4 linked regions of the Homo sapiens genome follow. The protein of the gene in region 1 interacts with the protein of each later gene in a pairwise test. Each region holds a gene or a part of one and is shown in the gene's direction. Other genes may lie near its edges. The genes, in order: ZCCHC7, KIF9, NEK6 and ZNF250.

Region 1 (7,872 bases):
GGTGCCTGTAGTCCTAGCTACTCAGGAGGCTGAGGCAGGAGAATGGCGTGAACCCGGGAGGCGGAGGAGTTTGCAGTGAGCCGAGATCGCGCCACTGCTCTCCAGCCTGGGTGATAGAGTGAGACTCCATCTCAAATAAATAAATAAATAAATAAATAAATAAATAAATAAAATAAACGTTGGTCTCTTTAGAAGATACTCTGTAAGAAAGACTTCAGGATATTTGTGCATGCTGTCACCCATGATTTCAAGAAGTAGGGGCTGAGCACTGTGGTTCACACTGAGGCGGGAGGACTGCTTGAGACAGTTCAAGACCAGCCTGGTCAACATGGCGAGATCCCATCTCTACAAAATGTATATAGTTTTAAATTAGCCAGGTGCAGTGTGGTGATGCACGCCTGTAGTCCCAGCTTCTTGGGAGGCTCAGGTGGGAGGATCTCTTGAGCCCAGGAGGTTGAGGCTCCAGTGAGCTGTGTTTACACCACTGCACTCCAGCCTGAGTGACAGAGTGAGACCCTGCGTCAAAAAAAAAATAAAATAAAATAAAAAGGAGAAATGGGGAGTAGAGACAGCTTCAATTAGAAAGAGAAATGCTGTGTATGTGGAGAGAGGCTAAGGTGGAAAGTTTCCCTGAAGACCCAAAACTTCAGCAGAGTAGGGTGAGTGGGTATATGTTAGAAGGACAGGGAGAAGGGCTTTACAGGCAGTGGAGTGTTCTCTGCAAAGGCACAGGTGTGGGAGGGCATGGTGTGTTCTGGCAACTGCCCAGGATTCAGCGTCAACAGTAGGCAGATGTCAGCTCATGAAGTGCCTTTTATGCCATCCAAAGGACTCTAGGTTTGAAGACATAAACTAAAGGGGTAGGCTGAAGCATTCTGAGCATGGGAAAGCAGTAAATCTTTGTTGAATGCATGTGTGACAGTGGGAAGATGGGACATGGTAATTAGGAGTACAGTCGTGTCATTTAATGATGGGGATAAGTTTTGAGAAGTGCATTGTTAGGTGATTTTTTCATTGTGCAAACTTCATCGAGCATATTTACACAAACCTAGATGGTATAGTCAAGTAAACACCTAGGCCACATGATGTAGCCTATTGCTCCCAGATTACAAACTGCTACATGTTACTGTACTGAATACTGTAGGTGACTATAACACAATAAGTATTTGTGCATCTAAACATGGAAGAGGTACAGTAAAAATATGATAAAATAATCATCATATATGCAGTCTGGTTTTGAGTGGAATGTCATTATGAAGCACATAACTATTATTTCCTATACTTGTGGCCTTCTATAAGTTTTACTTAGCCTTTCTACGCCTCTTTTCTTTTTTTGTGTGTGTGAAATTGGAACTTAAAACATCAACTTGAAAGTATTGGTGGGGCTGAGTGTCTCATGCCTGTAATCCTAGGACTTTGGGAGGCTGAGGTGGGGGGATCACTTGAGGCCTGGAGCCCAGAAGCTGGAGACCAGCCTGGGCAATACGGGGAGACCCTATCTCTACAAAAAAGTTTTAAAAATTAAAAAAATAATTAACTCAGCATGGTGGTGTGTGCCTTTAGTCCCAGCTACTTGGGAGGTTAATGCGGGAGCATCATTTGGGAGATAGGTTTCAGTGAGCTGTGATTACACCACTGCACTCCAGCCTGGGTGACAGAGCAAGACCCTTTCTCAAAAAAAAAAAAAAAATCCACAAAGTGTTGTCGAAATTTAAAATATTATAATAGATGGACAGGAGTAATCCTGGCAATATATTTTTAAATTTTTAAAAAGGTGACATTTGTTTTACACAATACATATTACCAAAACAAACAATCTAGTCATCTGTGATGTGCTTCTATGCCTGTTTTCTTTTCTGGAAAGTGGTTCTCCAATTTTACCTTTTCATAGTACCTTGTCCTTCTCCTTCCCAGCACTTACCCCATAATGTTAATTAAATGTTCTAATTCTTTTCTGGCCAAACTCCTAGACTATAACTGTTTTCCTAGCTAGATGCCTATCTCTATGAGATCAGTGACTTAAAAATTTACAGCTTTTCTGCACTTTCTAACACCGTCTTTTAACAGATAGATGTTCAATAAACGTTGGTGAAAACAATCAAACTCACACTTGTCTTGAGGAGAATTGAAATAGGCCAATGAATTGGCAGTGTGTCATTATGAGAGGAGAAAAATAGTTCAGAGCAGTCTAAGTTACGTTAAAGGTATGCAAAAATAATTTTTTTAAAAATTAAAGATATGGGGTCTCTCATCCAGGCTGGAGTGCAGTGGTGTGATCACAGCTCACTATGACCTTGAACTCTCAGGCTCAAGCAATCTTCTCACCTTGGCCTCCTTAGTAGCTAGGAATACAGTTGTGTGCCACCACGCCTGGCTAATTTTTACTATTTAAAATTTCTTATTTATTTTTATTTTTATAAAAAGATTTGTTTTTTTAAATTTATTTTTATATAATTTTTTAATTAAGAAAAGGATCTTATTTTAAATATAGATGGGGTCTTCTTATGTTGCCCAGGCTGGTCTCCAACTCCTGAGCTCAAGCGATCCACCTGCCTCAACCTCCCAAAGTGCTGGGATTACAGCCATGAGGCACCTTGCTTGAGCTTTAAACATTTTTGTTCAGACGGTCTCATTCTGGAGTGCAATGGTGCGATCTCGGCTCACTGCAGCCTAGACCTCCGCAGTTCAAACCTCAGCCAGGAACAGCTGGGACTCCAGGTGTGGGCCACCACGCCCTGTTATTATTATTATTTTTTTGACACGGAGTTTCTCTCTTGCTGCCCAGGGTGGAGTGCAATGGCGCAATCTCGGCTCACTGCAACCTCCGCCTGCCGGGTTAAAGCGATTCTCCTGCCTTAACCTCAGGAGTGGCTAGGATTACAGGCATGCGCCATCACGCCCGGCTAATTTTGTATTTTTACTAGAGACGGGGTTTCGCCATGTTGGTCAGGCTGGTCTCCAACTCCTGACCTCAGGTGATCCGCCCGCCTCGGCCTCCCAAAGTGCTGGGATTACAGGCGTGAGCCACTGCGCCCAGTCGCCCAGTTAATTTTTAAATTTTTAAATTTTTTTGTAGAGACAGCGTCTTGCTATATTACCCCGGCTGGTTTCGAATTCTCGGCCTTAAGCTATCCTCCCACTTCGGGCTCCCAAACAGGTGAGAGCTACCCCATTAGCCAGGCAGGCATTCAAACTTTATCAGGCCCAGAGGGACTTGAGTATGGTACTTCAGTTAGCACCATCCCATGTAGGTGGTGGTGGGGGTGGGGGTGGGGGGTAGGGGTGTGTGGCAATTGTTTAAAGGCATTTTGTTCTTTTCTTCCCAGTACCTGCATCACCCTTTATCTTCGTGTTCCTAAAATTTGTGATAGAAAGAACAATGTGTAGCCAATGGATAGCTTATGTTATTTTAGTGTCAATTCTTGGTATGTAGTTTAGCAAAAGCCTCTTCTTTTTTCCTTTAAAAATTCACTCGTGGCCGGGCGCGGTGGCTCACGCCTCTAATCCCAGCACTTTGGCAGGTCGAGGCCAGGAGTTCGAGACCAGCCTGGCCAACATGGTGAAACCCCGACTCTACTAAAAATACAAAAATTAGCTGGGCGTGGTGGCAGGCGCCTGTAATCCCAGCTACTTCGGAGGCTGAGGCAGGAGGATGGCTTGAATCTGGGAGGCGGAGGTTGCAGTGAGCCGAGACCGCGCCATTGCACTCCAGCCTGGGCAACAACTGCGAAACTCCGTCTCAGGAAAAAAAAAAAAAAAAAAAAAAAAAAAACCATAAAGAAAGAAAAAAATTCACTCGTAGCTGCTACAAGAAGTGTAATGGCTCATGCCTGTGATCCCAGTGCTTTGGGAGACAGAGGTGGGAGGATCGATACCTTTAAGCCTGGAGCTTCACAAGACAAAGAACTCAGTTGAAACTGCTGCTTATCGGATCACATATTAAGGGCAACTTGAATTGATGATCCCAGGTTGCCCTCATCAAACTTGGCCCAAATAAATTCTCCACTTATATTAACTTTGCCTCAGTTTTTCCTTTAGGTCGACAGTTATTTCTAAAGTTCTACAGATGGGTTTACCTTGTATTAAAATAAGGTGTGAGAAGGGCAAATGAAGCCAGAGGCTCCCAGCACAATCTTGCAACCTTCAGAGACTTCCAAAGGATCAGCATTAACTCCAATATTTAGCAGGAGTGCAGCTCTTCGAGATTCACAAAGTGTTAATCTGTTGCCTAGAATTCCAGAGAGTTGGAGGCGCCCAGTGTGAACTGTGTTCCGCCTAAAAGAAAAAGCGACCAGCCTAAGATCATGAGCGCAAGGGAGAAGCTTGAAGCCATGCGCTCTCAAGTACGCGTTTCCCGCTGCCCAGGTCTGCGGGCCAAGCAGCCAGCCACGCTGGCCCTCGTCATGCACGCGATCAGCTAGGCTCCCGCGCCACGTGGCACTGAGAAGGCGTCCACCGAGCGCCAGGGAGAAGGAGGCGGAGCCCGGCCTCAACCTCGCCCGTGTCCTCATGGGGGTTGTAGTTTTCCTCGCGGGGGTAGAGGGCACGAACTCCCCGGCTTTTGCCCGGTAAATAGCATCTCCTTCGTACGAGTCATTCAAATAATAGATGCAGCCTAGGTAGCTTCAAGAGAAGTTGGGAAGGGGAAGGGGGAAAGCAAGGAAGGCAAACCTAATAATTATGGGCGGGGCAGAGAACGGTTCGCACCCACTACGCATGCGCACATCAGGCGCGGCAGGTGGGCGGGGACGGAAAGGCGGTGACTAGAGCTGTGTTGTCCCCGGAAGTGCCTTCCCTCCCGGGTCTGCGCGGACGCGGCCTCCTTACCTCATTTGTCCTCGCCCCTCCCCGTCCCTCTACGCGTTTTGGTTCCCGGTTGGTGCTTCCTGTTCGCAGCTGCGGCAGTGAGTATGTGTGTGACGGACCCCCGCCGCCCGCGGCTCGGGACCCCTGCCTACCCTCCTTCTTGCCCGCCGGGCTGTGGAACTAGCGCGTGCCCCCTCGCCGGCCTCGACGTCTCCCGTCCGCCCCTCACTCGTGGCAGGGCGCAGCTCCTGGTCCGTCACCTGCGCGCCGCCCCACGCGGCCGGGCTGCGGGTCTAGGGGGTCCGCGTCTCCCTGGCTTTCCAAGGGCTAATGCCGTGATTCTAGAGCGGCTGGGCGTCTAGGGCCTCGGTGAGGGTGGCGTGTCTGCCCTTTTTATTTCCCCGCAAGGCCCCCAGTCTTCTAGGGAAGCCAGTCAGTGAAGCGCGGAGGTCCCGGCGCGCCGAGAGAGAGTCCAGTCTTTGAGGACCGAGTAGTCCTGGGCCACCTCCCGCCTCTGCTGTCAGAAGCAGCAGCTGCAGCAGTAGAATCCAAAATTTCGGGAGCTGTGACCCTTTCCTCATGTAAAACGAGTAGACTTGGACTGTGTTTACTAAGGCGCCCTTTATCCCTCCCATCCTGTGAGCGGACAGTTGCCTTCAACTTTTGGGAAGAGCTGCTGGTTCGGTGGAAAAGCTGTGGCTGGGAATCAGGAGGCCTGGGTTCTAGCCGTGGCTCCCCCACGGATTCGCTGGCGATTCCAGAAAGCTCTTATTGAAGCTGAATTTAAGATTATTTCAGATTGCACAGTTGAATTACGGGCTGCATTAGTAGGGCCTTTTTAGCTCAGTGAATAAGTTTCTCTGAGCTCCTTTCTCCAACTATAAAACGAGAGCGTTCAATTTGATGACTTTTCAGGTCCCCTCAGAAGCTCTTGACTTTGTGGTTTTCTTTTTCTTTTTAAAATTTTTTCTAGGACCGTTAGAGAAATGACTTCGTGTTTGAATAGTTAGGCTGTCGCATACAAAGACTTTTAAATGGATTGTGTGTATACTTAGGAAAGCGTTATGCTTTCAGGAGAATCTGAGCATGGGGAATAAAGTCAGGAAGGATCGCAAGTGAGGATTATATTAATATGATAATTAGCACGGTAAGAGACTGCATGACCGAAGGAAAAGGGCTAAGGGAAAGGTGAAGGAAATGTTTCCGGATAGGATTAGTTCTCGTAAAAATCATATATATATCCCAAGAAGAGCTGGGACTTAAGTGACTAAATTTAGCTTATTTTTTTTCCCCCACTGAAATACTGTGCTCTGTTTGTCTTTTGTGACTTTTGTTTTACACATTTGGATTCTCCATCCCAATCAGATTTGATTCAGAGTGGCCATCGCATTTGAAAAATGGACAGACATTTTAACCCTTTAGACAATTGTGTTTCAACTGTCCTGTCAGGGCAGCTTACTAAGAGTAAGAAAAATTTTACTTTGAAAGTAAAGTGTATTCATCACATTCCAATGAAAATTGGACTGAAAATGAGGCTGTGGATTTGATTTAAATCGGCCGGAGATGGATGCGTGTGTCATCAAGAAGGAACATCTAGGGAGGCTAAAGATATTTGGAAGTAAATAAGAGCAAAAGGTCAGAATGACCAGTAGGTAGACTGTGAGAGCAGAAGGATTGATTAAAGACTGTGTTAAGTAAATGCTGAAAGCTTAAATAAGCCTTAAGTTGTCTAGTTTAAAACAATTCAGTCAATGAATACTGCTCCCTCTTTTGAATGGTAATAGCCTTTGCAGTTATTCTATAGCTGTTTTATATTTGTTAAGGTATTTTAATTCTTAGATAAGTTTCATTTGCATGATATTTTAAGATGTTATATAGGAAACATCTTTTCTGGTCATGGGATTGATAGTTTTTGAGTACCAACTTGGGAGATTCTTAAATGGCAAACTGACAAACGTGTGTTTTCCTTACACCTAAAATGTCTCATTTAGTTTTTAAACTCTGCTGGGACATAAAATGGATATTTGTGAGGTAAATTTAGGTGTTAGAACCAATGCAAATATTGCAATGAAGGAAGGTTTTTCTTCAAAAAATCTTAATTTGAAGTTAACTTATTTGAAAATTTTATTTTGGGCCATGTGCGGTGGCTCACGCCTGTAATCCAGGCACTTTGGGAGTCCGAGTGGGGCGGATCACGAGGTCAGGAGTTCGAGACCAGCCTGGCCAACATGGTGAAACCCGTCTCTGCTAAGAATACAAAAATTACCCAGGCGTGGTGGCGCGTGCCTGTAATCCCAGCTACTTGGGAGGCGGAGGCAGGAGAATTTCTTGAACCCAGGAGGAGGAGGTTGCAGTGAGCCGAGATTGCGCCACTGCACTCTCACCTGGGGGACAGAACGAGACTCCGTCTCAAGGGGGAAAAAAAGAAATTTGTTTAAAAATTTTAGTAAACAGTTGGCTGAGAATCACAGAAATGTGAATCACTTCTAGCCGTGTTCTTAACCAGCTGCATAACCTTGAATAGGCTTCCTATCTCTTTGTATTTCAGTTTCCTGATGGGAAGATTGAGGAGTCTGTATGAGATAATCTGATTTTGTTACCTAGTTAGTATACTTGGGAATCATGTACAGGGATAAAAAAGCTGAGAAAGCCTTCTGAGTCAAGGGTGTGTGTGTGTGTGTGTGTGTGTGTGTGTGTGTGCGTGTGCGTGTGTGTGTAAAAAACATATATTGTCTTCCAAGACACTTTTTAAAAGGGTAAATTAAATTCATTTGAACGTAATTAAAGCAGTAACATTAACGAAAACAACCTTAGGCAGACCTTAACCCTGGCATACATAAACTACCTAAATAAGAGAGCACGTTATGCCCAGCACAATTTTCAAGTACAGACGGTACAAAATCCTCTTAAAGGCCATAGGGGCTAAATTGTTAAATTCATTTTTCTACATTTCAGGGAAAGAGATAAATCCTTTGACCCAAGGAAGTCAGTTTTTATTATGGTTCTGTAGTTTATTTTTGGCATACATTCACAGGTGTGCCTATGGCTCTATTCTTAATCCCTTTC
Region 2 (7,024 bases), on another chromosome or scaffold:
CTCAGCATCTTAGACTTTAGTAATCTAGCCCAGTGCCACTAATAGAAATATACTGTAAGTCACATGCAAATTTGAGTTTTCCAGTAACCACATTTTAAAAAGTAAAAATAAACAGATGAAATTAATTTTAATGATATATTTTATTTAACTAAATATATTTAAAATATTTCCGCATGTAATCAATATAAACTTATTGAGATAGTTTACATTCTTTTTCTCATACTAAGTCTTTGAAATCCAGTACATATTTTATACTTGGGGCACATTTCAGTTTAGGCATAAATATTATCAGAAATGCTTGATCTGTATTTAGATTTCATAAAATGTTGAAAAAGTAGATTTACATACCCAAGTTGTTCCAGACATACTTAAAGTTTACCAATAACTGAATTGCATCAGTTTTTAAATCTAACTGTAATTAAAATTACATAAAATTTAAAATTCAGTTCATTTGTACTAGCCACATTTTAGATACTCAGCAGCCATCTGTAACTTGTGTCTACTATTTTGAACAAAACCGGTCTAAATTCTTAGAGGAAGGCAGGACCTCAGGAATTATCCCTTCCTTGATAAGCACTGGGGAGGGAATTAGGAGTTGAGAAGGCTGAGTTCTGGCTTTACTTCTACCCTTACTAGCTGAGTGACCAATAGACAAATTATTTATTTATTTATTTATTTATTTTTTAGATGGAGTCTCACTGTCACCCAGGCTGGAGTGCAGTGGCGTGATCTCATCTCACTGCAAGCTCTGCGTCCTGGGTTCAAGAGATTCTCCTGCCTCAGCCTCCCGAGTCGCTGGGACTACAGGCGCACGCCACCACGCCCAGCTAATTTGTGTAATTTTAGTAGAGACAGGGTTTCACCATGTTGGCCAGGATGGTCTCGATCTCCTGACCTCATGATCTGCCCACCTCCGCCTTCCAAAGTGCTGGGCTCACAGGTGTGAGCCACCACACCCGGCTGACAAATAATTTTATTTTGTAGTGCCTTCCACAAATACGTATTGCTCCTGCACTGCCTCATTCACAGAGATTTATATGTGGATGGAATTAAATAGATTTGAAAGAGGCATATAAATGATGAGACTCTAAAATAAGAAATCCTCACTCCAGAGTCCTTTCCACTCATTATGCCTCTACTTCGTGAGATGGTTTAAGTGTTAGCCAATCTGATGTCAAGCCTCAAAACACTACAAGATGATACTAAATATCACCCAATTCCTTTAGGACAATAATTATTCTATACATCTTGATGTTCCCTTCTGAGTTAGGAAGCCCCCCTTATGCTAGTTGGCTGTTGGGGTTCTGCTCTTGGTGACCGCTGTACAATCTGTCATCTAGGTTTTTAGGATGATCGAAGAACGCCCCACACATGCCATCACTGTGCGTGTTTCCTACTTGGAAATCTATAATGAGAGCCTGTTTGATCTCCTGTCCACTCTGCCCTATGTTGGACCCTCAGTCACACCAATGACCATCGTGGAAAACCCTCAAGGAGTCTTCATTAAGGGCTTGTCAGTTCACCTCACAAGTCAGGAGGAGGATGCATTCAGCCTCCTTTTTGAGGTGAGATAATAAAACCTGAGGGTTCCTTTCCTTCTCTCCCTCCCTGCCACCCTCCTTCTCAGCTTTTCTTTTTCTTTTTCTTTTTCTTTTTTTGAGACAGGATCTTGGTTTTTCTCCAAGTCTGGAGTATACTGGCATGAACATGGCTCACTGCAGCCTCGACCTCCTGGGCTCAAGTGATCCTCCTGCCTCAGCCTCCCAAGTAGCTGGGACCACAGGAGCATGCTACCATGCCCACTTAATTTTTTTTTTTTTTTTTTTGTAGAGACAAGGTCTGGCCATGTTGCCCAGGCTGGTCTTGAACTCTTGGGCTCAAGCGATCTTCCCACTTCGGCCTCTCAAAGTGCAGGGATTACAGGCAAGCTACTGTGTCCAGCTAGTTTTTTACTTACTTTGATTATCAGAATGGAAATTAATATATGCACATTTAGCAAGTTCAGATAGTGCTGAAAAAAAAAAGGAACAAAAAAGAATTTTATTTCCTCTTCCTTTCCTGTTACGTAAATAAAAAGAAAAAATGATTCATGCATAATCTGTTTTTTACATAAGGCAACAATAATGTATATTTTAGCTCATTTCCTTCCAGTCTTTTTTCCTGTGCAGCTTTTTCTTTACATAGTTGAAATGATTCTTATGTCCCTTTTTTCAGTTAAATTATGAGCTCTTGTATGGAAAAAAATAAGGCCGGGTGCAGTGGGTGATGCCTGTAATCCTAGCACTTTGGGAGGCTGAGGTGGGTGGATCACCTGAGATCAGGAGTTTGAGACCAGCCTGGCCAACATAGTGAAACCCCATCTCTACTAAAAATACAAAAAATAAGCTGGGTGTGGTGGCGGGTGCCTGTAATCCCAGCTACTAGGGAGGCTGAGGCAGGAGAATCACTTGAACCCGGGAGGCACTGGTTGCAGTGAGCCAAGATCGTACCATTGCACTCCAACCTGGGCAACAAGAGCAAAACTCCTTCTCAAAAAAAAAAAAGAAAAGAAAAAGAGAAAAATAAGAATTAGCATCCTTACTATACAAAAGCTCTTAGAGCCAGGTGCGGTGGCTCATGCCTGTAATCCCAGCACTTTGAGAGGCTGAGGTGGGTGGATCACCTGAGGTCAGGAGTTCGAGACCAGCTTAGCCAACATGGTGAAACCTCATCTCCACTAACAATACAAAAATTAGGCTGGGCACGGTGGCTCATGCCTGTAATCCCAACACTTTGGGAGGCGGAGGCAGGCGGATCACAAGATCAGGAGATTGAGACCATCCTGGCCAACATGGTGAAACCCCGTCTCTACTACAAATACAAAAATTAGCTGGATGTGGTGGCGCTAACTCCCAACTACTCAGGAGGCTTAGGCAGGAGAATAGCTTGAACCCGGGAGGCAGAGGTTGCAGTGAGCTGAGATTGTGCCACTGCACTCCAGCCTGGCGACAGAGGGAGACTCCATCTCAAAAAAAAAAAAAAAAAAAAAAAAAATTAGCTGGGAGTGGTGGTGGGCACCTGTAATCCCAGCTACTCGGGGGGCTGAGGCAGGAGAATTGCTTGAACCCAGGAGGCAGAGGCTGCAGTGAGCTGAGATTAAGCCATTGCACTCCAGCCTGGGCAATAGAGTAAGACTCCATCTCAAAAAAATAAAATAAAGGCTCTTAGAAACCAGTCAAATGCACTGGCACAGTGGCTCACGCCTGTAATTCCAGCACTTTGGGAGGCCAAGGCGGGTGGATCACTTGAGCTCATGAGTTCAAGACCAGCCTGGGCAACACAGTGAAACCCCACCTCTACCAAAAATACAAAAATTAGCCAGGCATGGGGGCGCATGCCTGTGGTCCCAGCTGCTTGGGAAGCTGAGGTGGGAGAATCACTTGAGCCCAGCAGGTAGAGGTTTCAGTAAGCTGAGATCATGCCACTGCACTCCAACCTGGGTAATAGAGCAACACTCTGTCTCAAAAACAAGAAAAGAAATCAGTCAAGTGTATGTTATTCTTTTAGAAGTCATATAGGCTAGGAACTCTTTATTTTTTTATGCAAGTTCTCGCTGTGTTGCCCAGGCAATGGGCACATGTGCAATGGCTATTCACAGGCATGATCATAGTGCCTTCTCACAACATAGCAACTTACTTCCTCAACGTCAATAGCAGGATCTTTTTTAAAGGGCCAGAAAGACAAGGCAAGGCCAGGCGCGGTGTCTCACACCTGTAATCCCAGAGCTTTGGGAGGCCGGGGCAGGCGGATCACTGGAAGTCAGGAGTTCGAGACCAGCCTGGCCAACATGGTGAAACCCCCTCTCTATTAAAAATACAAAAAAAGAAAGACAAGGCAAGAGGGTACTTCAGAAGGGGGACTGAAGAGTAAAGGTGAATGACCTGCTGTGGTGGCTCATGCCTGTAATCCCAGCACTTTGGGAGGCTAAGGCAGGAGGATTGCTTGAGCTCAGGAGTTTAAGACCAGTCTGAGCAACATGGCGAAACCCTGTCTCTACAAAAAAATATAAAAAATTAGCCTGGCATGGTGGCCTGTACCTGTGATTTTAGCTACCTGGGAGGCTGAGGTAGGAGGATCACTTGAGCCCGGGAGGCAGAAGTTGCAGTGAGCCAACATCACGCCACTGCACTTCAGCCTGGGCAACAGAGTGAGAATGATCTCAAAAAAAAAAAAAAAAAGAAGAAGAAAAATGAAGTGACCCCTTATATTCTTGGTGAGTGTCACTGGATTTGTAGAACAGGCCTGACCATAGACTATAGCCTCACTACTATAAGCTATAGAGGTATGGCCACAGGAGTCTGCTAGGCTTGCTCCACAGCCTCAGGCCTTCCCTCTTCAGCGGGTGCTCTCCTCTCCCCAGGGGGGGCTGTCCCCCACCCTCACTTTGGGGCTTGTTCATAGCACTTCTCATCAGCATTTAAGGAGACATCAGTCTATCCCTCAAGGACCTTTTTCTCCAAGAACAGCCATTTCCACCACACCACCACCCTGTCTCTACAAAAAATTCCTTTTTAAGTATATTCTGGTCATAAGGCCTCCTCCTGTAAATTAGAGGTAAGGGCCTACTGTCCCTTTAAAAATACAAATTACTAGGTCAGGCACAGTGGCTCATGCCTGTAATCCCAGCACTGTAGCAGGCCGAGGCGGGCAGATCTCTTGAACTCATAAGTTCCAGACCAGCCTGGGCACATGGTGAAACCCTGTCTCTACAAAAAATACAAAAATTAGCCAGGTGTGGTAGTGCACGCTGGTAGTCCCAGCTACTCAGGAAGCCGAGGTGGGAGGATGGCTTGGGCCCGGGAGGCAGAGGTTATAGTGAGCCGAGATCGTGCCACCACACTCTAGTATGGGTGACAGACTGAGATGCTCTCCCAAAAAAAAAAAAAAAAAGGAGAACACAAAATAAATAAAAATATAAATTATTATTTTTATAGTAATACATGCTCACTAAAAAAAACCCACAAAACTGTATAAAAAAGATAAAATAACCTATAAACCCCAACCCAGAAGCAACTATTATTAACATCTTATTAGCAGAATTCTGCTTATTTCTTCTATGAATGCTTTTGCATTTCTTAGATCAGCTATAATATGATTTTGGATTCTACATTTCTCTCTGTTATTAAAAACTATGTGTCAGCATTTTCCTGGCTGCCCAATATCCCACTGTATACATAGATCATTCCCAAATTGTTGGACATGCAGGTTGATTCTGATTCAATATTCATAAACATTTTTAAGGCTCTTGATTTTTATTGTCACTTTGCTTTCCAGAAAGCTATACCAATTCACACTTCCCCAGCGGCGGGTGAAAGTGTAGATGTGGACTCCAATTTGACTCCCTTTCTATTAGTTTATAAAAGAGGTTTGCCTGGAAGGCCCAGCTGATCGCAGTGATATGAGACCACTTGTGTAGCTATTGGTATAATTGAAAAATGACCCAAGTGCCTTGTCGTTTTAGTTTTTCGAAATGTTGCCTATGATTCCCTTCCTCTTCAGGGTGAGACCAACAGGATTATAGCCTCCCACACTATGAACAAAAACTCTTCCAGATCACACTGCATTTTCACCATCTACTTAGAGGTAGGTGCAAGCTCTTTGATCAGCCCAGGCGGGGCAGTCAATTCCCACGGGGCCTGCTCAGTCAGAAACTTCTCCCTGTGACAGTCTAACTTCTGCTTGGATGTTTTGTAGGCCCATTCCCGGACCTTATCAGAGGAAAAGTACATCACTTCCAAAATTAACTTGGTGGATCTGGCAGGCTCAGAGAGGCTGGGGAAGTCTGGGGTAAGTGATGGGGGCTGGAGGTTGCTACTCAATAAACCACAAGCCCTTTTTCTGGCACAGTGCCTGCACATCTGGGCCATGACTCATTGGATATTTGTGAACACAGTCCTGAGCTAGGCGAAGTGGGACATGTGGGCTTGCTGGAGGGACAGGATTTGCAAAAAGGGAACGGCTATTACCTGGGGGCGGTTCCTACCTCAGAGGATTTTTGTAAACATTAAATGAGATAGTGCCCTCTACATTCTTAGCAAAGTGCCTGGCACTCAGTGCTCAGTAAATATTCCTTGCTGGTATAGCATTTCTCTGTGTGTGTTTTTGTTGTTGTTGTTTTGAGACACAGTCTCGCCGTGTCTCCCAGGCTGGGGTACAGTAGCACAAATACAGCTCACTGCAGCCTTGACCTCCCAGGCTCAAGTGATCATCCCACTTCAGTGTCTCAAGTATCTGGGACCACAGGTATGCACCACCATGACCAGCTAATTTTTAAATTTTTTTGTAGAGACGGGGTCTCGCTATGTTGCCAAGGCTGAACTTGAACTCCTGGGCTCAAGCGATCCTCCTGCTTTGGCCTCCCAAAGTGCTGGGATTACAAGTGTGAGCCACCACACCTGGCTTCTTTGTGAATGAATATGAGTATTCGTATGAGTATTTGCATGAGTATTTCAAATAAATATTTGTATGAGTGTATTAGCAGAAGTATTAACAAGAGTATTCAGATGAGCATTTGTATGTGCATTCATGAGTGTTTGTGTGAATATTCACAGGATTCTTTGCTCAAATATCTAGACAAGTATTTCAGTACATATTCATATTAGTGTGAATCTTTGAGTGAATGTCCATATGAATATTCATGTAAGCATTCACATTCGCATGAGTATTCACATGAGTGTTCACATGAATATTTCTGAGTTTTGGTATTACCATTATTAGCCCAAGATGGAATACAATCGCATGACATTGAAAGAAGACCCTGGTTCTGGGAAGGAGGCGCTGACCTGACCACAGACTTATAGCATTTCTCCAGACCAGGAAGACTGCTATTCTTAGTGGGGCAGCTGCTTTATTCCATCCAAAGTGGAACTGACCTTTGCTTTGTAGTCTGAGGGCCAAGTCCTGAAGGAAGCCACCTACATCAACAAATCGCTCTCATTCCTGGAGCAGGCCATCATTGCCCTTGGGGACCAGAAGCGGGACCACA
Region 3 (7,024 bases), about 87 Mb from region 1:
CCTTTTGAAGAGGCCGGTGGCGGGTCCTGGGGCGGGGCCTGGGGCAGGGCTCAGGTGACTGAAAGAATGGAGGCTGGAGCAGGAAGTGGCAGGCCTGGCCGGTCAGGGGGTCTTGAGTGAAAAGCCGAGGAGGGATCTGAGCTGAGAGCCCACCCGATACGGAGCAAGAGCTTGGGCACCACAGTCCCCAGTCCTGGGGTCACACCCCAGCTCTGCTGTTCTTTGCTGCCTGATCAGAACAGGTCACTGCTACCCCTCCAAGCCTCAGATTCCTGAAATGGGGACAGCAGTGAGGCCCACTCACAGGGTTGTTCTGAGGACCCAAAGAGTGGGCGCGTGGGCGGTGTCTGCACAGAGCCCAGCATGCAGTAGACACTCAGGATGCCTGCTCTTCTTAGGTGGGTGCTCTGTGTACAGGTGTATTTACCCGACAGACATTGGCACATGGTGGATAAAATCATCATCTTCCTCCTCCAGCAGCCCTCCAGATCGGGTCCTCTGGCAGGACCCACCATGAGAGGTAATTAGGCCTCGAGGCTTCAAAGTCAAGGTTGGCCCAGCCCTCACCTTGCTGTGTGCTGTGAGGCCTGGACTCCCATCACTCACTCCCGCAGGAGGGTGTTCTGTAGAGTTCCCTCAGCCAAATCTGGAAGAGACATTTTCTTTTTTTTGAGATGGAGTCTCACCGTCACCCAGGCTGGAGTGCAGTAGCACGATCTAGGCCAACTGCAACCTCCGCCTCCCAGGTTCAAGCAATTCTCCTGCCTCGGCCTCCCAAATGGCTGGGATTTACAGGCACCCACCACCACACCCGGCTAATTTTTGTGTTTTTACAAAAATTTTTTGGCCAGGCTGGTCTCAAACTCCTGACCTTAAGTGATCGCCCGCCTCGGCCTCCCACAGTGCTGGGATTACAGGCGTGAGCCACTGCGCCTGGCCTAGAAGAGACATTTTCACTTTACTTTTTTCCCTGCTTTTCCAGTGAGTTTCTATTATTCATTAAGTCATGATTCAGGGTCCCAGAGTAGGGATCACCACATAACCAGGTTCCCCTCAGGCACTCTGGGAGAAGGACAGAGGAGAAGTTGATGGACCCAGCTTAGACCTGCCCAGGAGACGTGCCCCTGCTCCGCAGGCATCTCAGGCTGAGACGCAGCTGGTCCGGCCAGCAGTTCCTGGTGTTTCCAGGTGGGGAAGCAGCTGTCAGAAGGGCCAGTCCTGTAGTTCTCGGTTTGGTCTTGATGCCTTCCGCCAGGGTGCTGGCTCCTAAAGACGCCTCGGTACGGTGCCCGGCTCAGTGTGACCCTCACCAAAGACCCACTTCATGCTAGAAAGTTGAACTGCTTGTTCTGGCTTCACTAGGGGCGGTGGCATGGAGCTGGGTGATGTGGGCATGGCTGGCCCCTCTGGGCCTCAGTTTCCTCATCAGGCAAATGGAGACACAGCCGGGCCCATCTCACCATAGGGCAGGCCAGAGATGTGGCATCCTCTCCCCTTGTCTGTCTCCTCCTTCCCTGGCCCACTGTTGGCGCCCCCTCCTGCCTTTTCCTGAGAGCTCACTGCACAGGTGTCCTGGGGTCCTCCTGGCCACTGTGGTCTCACCTGGAGGCTCCATCCCTGGGCAGGTCCTAGCGCAGGATCATGTGTTCCAATGCTGGCCCCTGCAGAGTCTTTGTGGAGCTCTGGTTTCTTCACGACACCCTAAAAAAGGCAGTTTATCTAAAGGATGGGCTCAGGGTGTAAGGCTGCACATTTTTTTGAGAGGGGGACAGAGTCTCCATCACCCAGGCTGGAGTGCAGTGGCATGATCTCTGCTCACTGCAACCTCTGCCTCCTGGGTTCAAGCGATTCTCATGCCTCAGCCTCCTGAGTAGCTGGAATTATAGGCATGGGCCACCACACCCAGCTAATTTTTATATTTTTAGTGGAGACAGGGTTTCGCCATGTTGGCCAGGCTGGTCTCGAACTCCTGACCTCTCGAACTCCCGCCTCAGCTCCCAAAATGCTGGGATTACAGGCGTGAGCCACCACACCTGGCCAAGGCTATGAATATTAACCTTGGTTTTCTTGTCTGAGATGGGGAACGGCTGCCCCAGGAAGGGAACTTGCCATTTCTTATGATGACCTGGGGCATTTTGCATGGTGGCCACGGGCTGGGGATACATGAGCTGCACCCGGCTTACCGGACCCCAGTTTGGGCATCAAGGATTCAGGAGAGGATGAGACGGGCAACGCCCGTGGTCCCACGGAGCTAGCCCCCAGGGATGGGACTCAGAGACAGCAAACAAACAAGCAGTCAGACAATGAAGGTGGTGATGAGGGCAGTGGGGAGCATGAACAGCCTCAGTTTTTCACCTGCACTGGGGGTCCTTGAGGGGACCCAGGGGACCCTGTGCAGAAAGCCCCCTGGGGGGGTGCCTGGGAGGCTCCCAGAGCAGGGTTGGCAGCAGAGTCCCTCCTTCACCTTAGAGGGTGCTGTTGGGGTGCTGGGCCTCTAGGGGTCGTCCCCAGGCCTCTGCTGCAGCCTGGCTGCTCACGGAGGCCCTCTGTCCCCCGTTCCAGAGGCATCCCAACACGCTGTCTTTTCGCTGCTCGCTGGCGGACTTCCAGATCGAAAAGAAGATAGGCCGAGGACAGTTCAGCGAGGTGTACAAGGCCACCTGCCTGCTGGACAGGAAGACAGTGGCTCTGAAGAAGGTGCAGGTGAGCTGACAACCCGTGGGGTCAAACCTGCATCTCGGGAGGTGGTCTCTGCATCTGGACGGGGTGCCCGGGCCAGTCCCTTCTCTCCCCTCTTCTGTGAACGAGGGAAACAGCACTCAACTCACTGGGTTACAGAGAGAACCAGGTGGACTCCTATTGATGAAAGTTCACTGTGAACTGCAAAGGAAAAGAAAAACGAGCATGCATTGAGCGCCTGCTGTGTACTGGGTCATGCAAGGAGCACATGGAGCCTCTCAACAGTCCCGTGGGTGGGGATTGTCATTTCATCTCTCAGATGAGGAAAATCTCATAACCGCCAGGGCCCCAGCATGAGTCTTGGGGGAGCTGAGGTTCATACCATGTCCACCCATCCTTGCGCCTGCGGTTGCTCCACAGTTCTGGGCTTCCTGCCTTCTGCGTCCCTCCTAAATGGAGGAAGTAGGTCAAGCGGCAAAGTCAGGACAGGAGCCATGTCCATGAGAGCCGCTGGGCCCGTCTGAACACAGCTTTGCCGGAGGAAATGGCTTTAAATCCTCCAGCAAAGCTTCCCAAGCCCCTTGATTTGCTTACTTGTCCTTAAAGAACAAGATTGAGAGCCTGGGCAGAGGAGGGCCGGGAGAGAGAATGGCGTTGGGGAAATGGGGAGAGAACACCCGCAGCTTCAGGGCGCTGGAGGAGTAGCAGGGTCCTCTCTGTCCAAAAAAGGACCAGTTTCTCTCTTGATCTTGTTTTTTTTTTGAGATAGAGTCTCAGTCTATCACCCAGGCTGTAGTGCAGTGGCGTGATCAGCTCACTGCAACCTCTGCCTCCCGGGTTCAAGCGATTCTCCTGCCTAGGTCTCTTGAGTAGCTGGGACTACAGGCGTGCACCACCACACCCAGCTAATTTTTATATTTTTAGTAGAGACGGGGTTTCACCATGTTGGCCAGGCTGGTCTCGAACTCCTGACCTCAAGTGATCCACCCACCTCAGCCTCGCTGGGATTACAGGTGTGAGCCACTGTGCCTGGCCCGCCCTCTCCATCTTCTGGGGAGGGGCTCACCTGGGCTCTCTGTCTTGGTTCTTTAGTGCCACGATGGGTTTTGTGGTGGGACAGTGCTGGGGGGACCCACAGTGAGCAAGCCCTACAGGGGCTGGGAGTGCAGGGGGGGGTCACAGAGTCCCTTGGTGAGGAGGTGGGAGAGCCGGGACTGGAAAGCAGACCCCGTGGCCTCCTTTGGGTCACTGGACACAGATTGTAACCACTCTATTTCTCTTTTTCCTCCCGCCCAAGATCTTTGAGATGATGGACGCCAAGGCGAGGCAGGACTGTGTCAAGGAGATCGGCCTCTTGAAGGTGAGCACCCTGGGCCGAGCGGGAGCTTTGCCTCCTCGGGGAGGTTCTGGGGCCGCGGCTGGGCCACATCATGTCCATCACAGCCCTTGGGTGCCAGGAATCCGCAGCCCCTGCTAAGTTAACAGACGATAGCTTTCTAGGGGCAGCGGCTAGTGAGTTTTCTCCTGGCCAGGCAGGAGCGGCCCGCCTCATCGCTCTGCCCAGCCCTTGGGGTCGCTGCCTACAGCCTTTCCTCCTTGCTGCACGCCCCTCCTGCTTGTACATGGCAGTACCCGGCATAGAAGTCCTTCCCCACAGGGCAGCCCTGACCCTGCCTCGCAGTGGCCTATGGACCAGGCTTGGCTAGGGGAGGAGTTCATTGTGGGGACCACATCCAGACTGCAGCCTGTCTGGCTCTGCCTCTGTCTCTATGTCTGTCTCCCTGTTTTTCTCTTTCTCATCCTCTTTCCATCTCTCCTCTCAGCCTTTTTCTTTGGTTTTGTTGGTAGTGGTGGTGGTGGTGGTGGTGGTGGGTTTTTTTTTTATTTTAGAGGCAAACTCTGTTGCCTGGACTGTAGTGCAGTGGCATGATCATAGCTCACTGCAGCCTCAAACTCCTGGGCTCAAGCAATCCTCCCGCCTCAGTCTCCCGAGTAGCTGGGACCACAGGCGCATGCCACCACACCTGATTTTTATTTTTTATTTCTTTTGTTTTTTTTTGAGACAGAGTTTTGCTCTTGTTGCCCAGGCTGGAGTGCAGTGGCACAATCTCTGCTCACTGCAATCCCCACCTTCTCGGTTCAAGCAGTTCTCCTGTCTCAGTCTCCTGGGATTACAGGCACCCACCACCACACCCAGCTAATTTTCATATTTTTAGTAGAGACAGCGTTTCACCATGTTGACCAGCCTGGTCTCAACCTCCTGACCTCAGGTGATCCATCCACCTCAGCCTCCCAAAGTGCTGGGATTACAGGCGGGAGCCACCGCACCCGGCCCCCCATGAAACATACTGGATTTGCTCGGCAGTTTCCAGCAAAGTGGGACTGCTGGTGGCAGGGCTGCCCGCCGAAGCCACAGCTGCAGAATTTCAGATTAGCAGTTTTTTCTGCCACACGCTGCCCTGTGTTCTCAGGCCTTGGCCCTGCTCTTGGGGACTTCCAGGCTGGTGGGGAAGCAGGTAGGAAGCAGATGGTGACCTTCCAGGGTGATGCAGATTGACTGGTGGGCCAGGAGCCCCAGGGAAACCCGCTTCCTGGGCAGGCCTCACAGAGGGCAGGGCACCATCCCAGAATCTGGAAGGCCGAAGTGAGCCTTCTTCCAGGCACCGCAGCACCGTGGATTATGGGAGGTTGGGGAGACAGAAGGCTGGACATGGCAGCAGAGCCAGATACACACTCAGAACAAAAGGGGAGCCCCTGAAGTGGCTGCAAGTCGGGGGGCCATGGCTGGGTGTGAGTTGTGAGTGCCTGCTCTGGTGGCCCCCGGCCACAGTGGGTGAGGGAGTCAAGGCTGGAGGCAGGAGGTGTCCTTACCACTAACTATTATAGGTCAAAAAATATCCCTCGAAAACATTGTTTAAATGTTTAAGTAATGGTCAGCTTGCTGCCACTTACCCAGCCCTGAGGAATGTTTGTCCTGATCACCCATTGCCCCCTCCCCACCTCATGTGCCCTTCTCCCCGAGTGAAGGAACCCACAGGTGAGCATGCTGAGCACAGCCTGGTCTGGTCCCTGGTCACACAGATGTGCCACCGCAGCCCCTGCCTTGCAGGAGCCTGAGCCTGGCGTAAACCCACATGGCTGCAGAGGGGATTTGGTCCCTTCTCCAGGGCTGCCATGCAGCCAAGGGCACCAAGCCGGGGTTTCAGAGGACACACCCCTCGCTCACTAGCTGTGTGGCTGCAGGCCAGCCATGGGCCTCTCAGGACCTCAGTTTCCTCATCTGTAAAGGGGGCATGATGACAACAGGGACGCTGGAGGAGTCAGTGAGGAAGCATGTCTGACGAGCTCAGGGCAGCGCTGGTGTGTGGTACGCTCGCCGCCCAAGGCAGCCCAGTTGTCATGGTTGCCACCTCTGCCCGCCAATGCCAGCCGCCTTCCCGAACACGGGTCCCACTCCACAGGTAGCCCATGGGAAGTCAACAGGATGTGCCAGGGCACGAGGTGCTTCCTACAAAACAAAAGGAAACGTGGTTTTCGGAGGGGTGACTGTTGACATATCACATCATTCATGCAAAGAACCCAAACCCAAAACCTCTCAAGTGCGGGGGCTGGTGGGGTCGGCAGCTGCCAAGCGTGGGACAAGAAGGTGGGTCCTGTTGGAACGCAGGCGTGTGTTCATTCATTCTGTGCAATTTCTGATCACCACTGAATGCTGGACACCAGGGTGCAGCCCAGTGGAGAAGACAGATCATAGACACTCTGTGTTACATCCGGGAGGGCCTGGAGCTTGGGAGCAGAGCCCCTGATGGCAGAGATTCAAAGGACAGGGACCCTTACTCTCAGCTCTCCCTCCCTTCCCTCTGGCCACCACCACAGCCAGACAAAGCCCAACCACATTGCGTCTTTGCAGCACCTTCCCTGTCCCTGACCCAAGTGTGTCCCCTTCCAGACCCACCTGGGCCCACCAAGAGGCCACAGGCTGTGAAGTGGACTCCATGTGGACCAGGTTCTAGACTCAGCTCGGCCCCTGCTTGCTGTGGACCCGTGGCTGATCCCTTCCCCTCTCTGGACCTTGGCGATTTAGCCCAATGGACGTCTGGAGCCCCTTTCTGCCTGTGCCTGTGTAGACTGCCTGGGCATTTAAGGGAGCCCTTCCTTAACCCCCTGCCCTCAGACGTGCAGGGAAATGGGGGAGGAGTCTCCCTCCTCCCCTCCCCAGGAACCAGCGCCTCCTTGATGGGGCTTTACTTCCTACCCAACCCCTCTCATTTCTCCCTTGTTGGAGAAACTGTGTCATGCCTGGACTGCTGATGACCTGGGCAGTTTTTGGGGAGTCCTCCCTGAG
Region 4 (7,024 bases), on another chromosome or scaffold:
AACATGGTGAAACCCTGTCTCTACTGAAGATACAAAAAAATTAGCCAGCCATGGTGGCATGTGCCTGTAATCCCAGCCACTGGGGAGGCTGAGGCAGGAGAATCACTTCAACCCGGGAGGCAGAGGTTGCAGTGAGCCGAGCTCGTCCCATTGCACTCCAGCCTGGGCGACAGGGTAAGACTCCGTCTCTAAAAAAAGAATTATGTTCATAAACAGAATAGACATAAATAAACTATGGTATTTTAACTTAATGGAATATACTGCAGTGAAAATGATTAACTGCTGTACAACAACATGATGGATCTCAAAAACATAATGCTGACGGGAAAACGAGTTCCAGAAGACTGTGCTCCATGAAACTATAGAAAGCTCAGAAACACGCATAACTAAGTAAAATAAAATATAATAATGTTTAGAGCCAGGCACAATGGCTCATGCCTGTACTCCCAGCACTTTGGGAGGCAAAGGCGGGAGGATCATATGAGCCCCAAGCAGCTTGAGGCTGCAGTGGGCTATGATAGTAGCCACTGTACTCCAGCTTGGGTGACAGAGACTCCATCTAAAAAAAAAATCACTGTTGTCCTCAGCACCTCTTACCTCCCACCCACTCACACACAATCAGCCTGCAGAGCGCTCGACCTGCTCCCAGAAGAGTCTCCACCCCTGCCTTTCCCGCCATCTATGCTTCTGCTCCTGAAGGCCTCATCTGTGGCCTAAACTTGGCAGCAGATTCCCATCATGCCCCTCTGCACCTTCAGTCTTGTCCTTCCCTCCCCTCCTCCTGCCACTGCATTCTCCACATGAAATTATCTTCCACATGGCCAGGTCCGATGGTTCACGCCTGTAATCCCAGCACTTTGGGAGGCCGAGGTGGGTGAATCACTTGAAGTCAAGAGTTCAAGACCAGTCTGGCCGACACGATAAAACCCCATCTCTACTAAAAATACAAAAATTAGCCAGGCATGATGGTGTGCGTCTGTAATCCCAGTTACTCAGGAGGCTGAGACACGAGAATCGCTTGACCCCAGGAGGTGGGGGTTGCAGTGAACCGAGATTGTGCCACTGCACTCCAGCCTGGATAACAGAGCAAGGCTCCTTCTCAAAAAAAAAAAAAAAGAAATTATTTTCCACAAAGAGGTGGCAGCACCACCACCCCTACCTCATGTACAAGTCTGTTGGCCTCCAGATGGCACACCCCGACTTGCTCACAATAGCTCACACCTCTCCCTGCCTGCCCAAGTGCTGCTGTCTGCCCCACAAGGCACCCACATTATGTGGGCCTGTATTTCAGCTCTGTCCACATGAGGACCCCTGGGAGGGCAGGACTCAGGCACCACTGGGCTGTTTCCCTGCTGTTCTGTGGACTCCACACAGGGGTGTGACCTCAAACTGGAGTTTACACCTTTCTCTTAAAGCTTGCCTTGGCACCTTCCTGTCTGGAAACATTATCTTCTGATATCTAGTTGTTTGACACAGTTATGGTGGTTCTGTTCTTCTGTAGCTCACACCAACGTGTGCATTGAGGGATTTTGCACCTTCATCAGCAAGGCCAGTTTCAGGGTTGCACTAGCTCTTCAGTTTTGAGTAGTGTTAACATTTTCATTTTGGATTTGTTCTTTCAGAATGTGAAACCAAGGGAGAGAGTCAAAATACAGACTTGAGTCCGAAGCCATTAATTTCAGAGCAAACAGTGATTCTGGGGAAAACACCCTTGGGGAGGATTGATCAAGAAAATAATGAAACAAAGCAAAGCTTCTGTCTGAGTCCAAACTCTGTTGACCACCGTGAAGTTCAGGTCTTAAGCCAAAGCATGCCACTCACTCCGCACCAGGCAGTGCCTAGTGGAGAGAGGCCCTACATGTGTGTTGAGTGTGGGAAGTGCTTTGGCCGGAGTTCCCACCTCCTTCAGCATCAGCGTATCCACACTGGAGAGAAGCCCTATGTGTGCAGTGTATGTGGGAAGGCCTTCAGCCAGAGCTCAGTCCTTAGTAAACACAGGAGAATTCACACAGGTGAGAAGCCCTATGAGTGTAATGAGTGTGGAAAAGCCTTTAGAGTGAGCTCAGATCTTGCTCAGCATCACAAGATACATACAGGAGAGAAGCCTCACGAATGTCTTGAGTGTCGGAAAGCCTTCACTCAACTCTCACATCTCATTCAGCACCAGCGGATCCACACGGGAGAAAGGCCATATGTGTGTCCGTTGTGTGGGAAAGCCTTCAACCATAGCACTGTTCTGCGGAGCCACCAGAGGGTACACACTGGGGAGAAGCCTCACAGGTGCAATGAGTGTGGGAAAACCTTCAGTGTGAAGAGGACACTGCTGCAGCACCAGAGGATCCACACCGGGGAGAAGCCCTACACGTGCAGCGAGTGTGGGAAGGCCTTCAGCGACCGCTCAGTCCTCATTCAGCACCACAACGTGCACACCGGGGAGAAGCCCTATGAGTGCAGTGAGTGTGGGAAGACCTTCAGCCACCGCTCCACACTGATGAATCACGAGCGGATCCACACCGAGGAAAAGCCCTATGCATGCTACGAATGTGGGAAGGCCTTCGTTCAGCACTCACACCTGATCCAGCACCAGAGAGTCCACACTGGGGAGAAGCCCTATGTGTGTGGTGAATGTGGGCACGCCTTCAGTGCACGCCGGTCTCTGATCCAGCATGAGAGAATCCACACAGGTGAAAAGCCCTTCCAGTGCACAGAATGTGGCAAAGCCTTCAGCCTGAAAGCAACTCTGATTGTGCACCTGAGGACCCACACGGGCGAGAAGCCATATGAGTGCAATAGCTGCGGGAAGGCCTTCAGCCAGTACTCAGTGCTCATCCAGCACCAGCGGATCCACACAGGCGAGAAGCCCTATGAGTGCGGGGAGTGTGGGCGTGCCTTCAACCAGCATGGCCACCTAATCCAGCACCAGAAAGTGCACAGAAAGTTGTGACCCATGGCTGACACAAGAATCCATTCTCACAGAAACTGCATGTGGAACCACAAGCAGCCTTCAGCCCAAGAGAAGTCTCTGTTAACTCTATAGGAAGCTTTTCTTTGGCGATTCAGTGTCACAAAATAACTCCAGAAAGAAGCACTTAGCGTGCTGTTCCTGTGGAAAAACTTCAGAGACTACCTGTTTTATTTTCCTCAACATCTTGAAGTTATGTTGGAGAGTAATCATACAATTGTAGAGAATTTTGGTAAAAAACAGCCATAATTCTTTAACATTAGTTTATTTGAACTAAGGGAATTTAAGGCATAAGAACCATTATCCCAATAAAATCTTACATTCCAAATAAAGTTCTTTTTCTAAGAACATTACATGCCCTTCCTAAATATCAATTAACCATACTAATTATTGCACTTAAAATTTGAAAGTCGGACTATTTTCAGTATTCTCTTAAAAGACTAAAGTATTGTATGGATAAAGTGATATAAAAAGATATTTTCATCAAGCATCATGTAAAATGGTTGGAAATCCTAAGTGTGTGGATTTCCATCCTAAGTGTGTGGAGTCCTGTTTTGTATGAAACAAGGAAAAAGCTTATATATTAGTGAGAAATTACATAAATTTAAAAAACTTTTTGTATGTGTGTGTGGAGATAGTCTTGCTCTGTTGCCCAAGCTGCAGTGCAGTGGCATGATCTTGGCTCACTGCAGTCTCCGCCCCCACCCCAGGTTCAAGCTTTTCTTGTGCCTCAGTCTCCCAAGTAACTAGGATTATAGATATGCGCCACCACACCTGGCTAATTTTTGTATTTTTAGTAGAGACGGAGTTTCACCGTGTTGGCCAGGCTGGTCTCGAACTCCTGGCCTCAAGTGATCCTCCCACCTTTGCTTCCGAAAGTGTTGGGATTACAGGCGTGAGGCACCATGCCTGGCCTAGAAAACCCTTTATCTGGAGCTTTTAACTTTATTCAAGATCAGAAAGGTTATGCTAACTTTTTAGTAAAAATTCAACTCAAAAATGGGTATTTTCCTCAAAACTTGCCCTTATGACCTGCAGATCCTGTGCCCCAGAAACCGTGAGATGTCTCAATTCCCATGCAGGCAAAGGAGGGGAGCTTCACACTCAGCAGACCTCATAGCTGTTACACCAAGTGGGTACCTCTTTACATCTTATGGTATTTCCCCCAAAACAATGCTGAAAATACTGTTCTTTGGTAGATATATTTAAAACATACATTTCTCAAATTCAGATAGCTCTTTTTTACTATCTCTAGTATTTCTATTCCTATATTTGAAGGGGTTTTTTTTTTCATTTTTTTACTCCTGGTTCAAGAGTCCAGTATCCATTGCCATATTACTATGATGAAGATGAATCTAGTTTATTCATAATTAAAAATTTGTATTCAGAATTATTTGTTCTGTTTTAAGCATACTTTTTTTTTTTTTTTTGAGACAAAGTCTTGCTCTTGTTCCCCAGGCTGAAGTGCAATGGCACAATCTCAGCTCACTGCAATCTCCACCTCCCAGGTTCAAGCAATTCTCCTGCCTCTGCCTCCCAAGTAGCTGGAATTACAGGCACCTGCTACCACGCCCGACTAATTTTCGTATTTTTAGTAGAGATGAGGTTTCACCATGTTGGCCAGGCTGGTCTCAAACTCCTGACCTCAGGTGATCCGCCCGCCTCGGCCTCCCAAAGTGCTGGGATTACAGGCGTGTGCCACCGCACCCGGCCAAGGATACAGTTCTTGAAACCGAATCAGAACCATTTCTAGTAGCAGCCAGCTGCAAACGAAACAAATGTATGAGGTTCAAGCCACTTGAAATTCTCAACATGTTAAGTGCCTGAGATAGAGAAGGGCTGTCTTCACCCCAGGCCCCCGCCCCCAACATCTGTCAGTTTGGTGGGGAGGAAATAGTCACCAGGATATTGATCCTTTTTGTTTGTTTTAAAGACGGTCTTGCTCTGTCACCAGGTTGGAGTGCAGTGGTGCCATCATGGCTCACCGCTGCCTCAAACTCCTGGGCTGAAGCAGTCCTCCCACCTCACCTTCCCAAAAGGTTAGGATTACAGGCATGAGCTGCTGTGCCCATCCAGGCATTGATCCTTAAGTCCACAGCAAAACACCACGATGTAGACAAAAGCTTGTTCCCCCTTCTATGTACAGACACTGACAACAGTGAATTATTAACTCCAGAGAGGAACTGGTAACTGATTGGTTAACTTGAGAAAGGAGCTGACATCACTGGTGTTTTACTTCAGAGCAACTGAAACCACTGAAGTGAAATTCCAGAGGAACTAATATTACTGAGGTGTTACTTCAGAGGGACTGAGATCACTGAAGTGAAACCTCAGATAGCTCAGATAACCAAGGTGTTAACCTTAGAGGTGTTGCCATTCTGTGAGGTGTTGTTTCAGATAGATAAAATAACTAAGGTGTTAGTTCAGAGAAGACAAGAGCTTAACTGTTTCTTTGGAGAAGAGCTGAGATCACTGAGGCGTCACTTCAGAAAGAAAGTGAGACAATTTTTGTTACTTCAGAGGATCTGAGTACACTGAGGTGTTTCATCAGAGAGGAGGTGAGATCACTGGGTGTTACTTCTGAAAGGAATTGACATCACTAGTGGGTACTGCAGAGTAGCTCTGACCACTGAGGTTTACTTCAGAGGAGCTGAAATAACGGAAATGGGATCACTAAGGTATTACTTTAGAGATTAGATCATTGAGGTAATTCTTCAGAGAAGCTGAGATCACAGAGGTGTTTCTTCAGAGAAGTTGAAATCACTAATGTGAAACTCTAGAAGAATGGAGGTCACTGAGTGCTATTTCATAAAGGAAGTGAAATCACTATATTGTACCATCGGAAAGATGAGAATGCTGAGATGTTACTTAGGAGCTGAGATCACTGAGGTTCTGCTTCAGAGAAAAGCTGATACCAATGAGATGTTACTTAAGGGAGGAGCTGAGGTTACTGAGGTATTATTCAGGACCAAGATGGTGTCCCTCAGGTGTTAGAAGCTGAGATCACAGAGATGTTACTTAAGAGAGGCTGAGACTGCTGATGTGATTCTTCAGAAAGGAAATGAGATCACTAAGCTGTTAACTTTAGAAAGGAGATGAAATAACTGAGTTGTTCACTGGAGTTGAGATCACACAGGTGTTAACTTCAGAGGTGGCTGAAATCACTAAGGTGATTCTTCAGAGAAAGGTTGAGATCACTAGGGGTGATGCTTTAGAAAGAGGTTACTTTAGGGAAAAGCTATGATCACTGAGAAGTTACTTCAGAATGGAGCTGAGATCACTGAGGTAACAGTCCAAAGAGGAACTGAGATTACTGAGGTGTTACTTCAGAGCCAAGAGATCACCCAGGTACCTAGATGAGATCACTGAGATGAAAGTCCAGAAACCTGAGGTCACCTCAATATTAATTGAGAGAAAATGAGAACACTGTGGTGCTATCTTAAATCTTCTATGAAAGGAAGCTGCCAACCTGTGTTAGCTGAGTCCACAGCTGGCATGTGACTCAGTGGCAGCTGCTCAGTGCCCACTACTATTCAGGCCCCAATTTCTAATCATTAAAGACAAAGTCATATTCCAATTAAGATGAGAATAATTAAATTCAATATACAGGAACATTTGTTTAGAAAGACTGTGTATCACAGGACAACGTAAGTTACACAGTACAAGTTATTCTGGATTCCAATAACCTAGGGTTTTCAGGGAAATCCTTCCAAAAAGTATAGTTTTTTTCCTGCATTCTTAAAATGAGCTTAATATCATTCTGCCTGTTCTTGCTATGTCAGGCTGCCATTGATCCACTGGTGAGAATGCAGGCTCAGGTGTCCACGGAGCCAGGAAGTGGGCTTCAATGCCCTTCTTTCTGAGGAGGATTCCCAGGCTACATTTTCTTGCCACTCACCTCCTCCTCTCCAAGGAGAAAGAGGTGGCACATGACCTACTGGAACATGTGGGCTATCTACCTTTTTGGGATATAACATCAAAGGCCAGGGCCCTGAATTTTCATGCTGATAACAGTCTTCTCAACCATTATCTTCTGCCTGATTTGTCAGCAGCATTCCACCT

The links.
Region 2: the proteins of ZCCHC7 (region 1) and KIF9 interact in binary tests that used the Homo sapiens proteins (3 or more experiments, as listed by UniProt).
Region 3: the proteins of ZCCHC7 (region 1) and NEK6 interact in binary tests that used the Homo sapiens proteins (3 or more experiments, as listed by UniProt).
Region 4: the proteins of ZCCHC7 (region 1) and ZNF250 interact in binary tests that used the Homo sapiens proteins (3 or more experiments, as listed by UniProt).

What each region holds. Positions count from the first base shown.
Region 1 is NC_000009.12:37,115,720-37,123,591, forward strand, and holds the start of ZCCHC7 (zinc finger CCHC domain-containing protein 7), read left to right. Parts: upstream 1-4,854; 5' UTR 4,855-4,904; exon of another isoform or gene 4,905-5,953; intron 5,954-7,872.
Region 2 is NC_000003.12:47,265,778-47,272,801, reverse strand, and holds part of KIF9 (kinesin-like protein KIF9), read left to right. Parts: intron 1-1,340; coding exon 1,341-1,565; intron 1,566-5,538; coding exon 5,539-5,622; intron 5,623-5,733; coding exon 5,734-5,826; intron 5,827-6,924; coding exon 6,925-7,024. UniProt on the Homo sapiens protein: Essential for normal male fertility and for progressive motility of spermatozoa.
Region 3 is NC_000009.12:124,309,947-124,316,970, forward strand, and holds part of NEK6 (serine/threonine-protein kinase Nek6), read left to right. Parts: intron 1-2,562; coding exon 2,563-2,703; intron 2,704-3,976; coding exon 3,977-4,039; intron 4,040-7,024. UniProt on the Homo sapiens protein: Protein kinase which plays an important role in mitotic cell cycle progression. Required for chromosome segregation at metaphase-anaphase transition, robust mitotic spindle formation and cytokinesis.
Region 4 is NC_000008.11:144,877,435-144,884,458, reverse strand, and holds part of ZNF250 (zinc finger protein 250), read left to right. Parts: intron 1-1,622; coding exon 1,623-2,944; 3' UTR 2,945-7,024. UniProt on the Homo sapiens protein: May be involved in transcriptional regulation.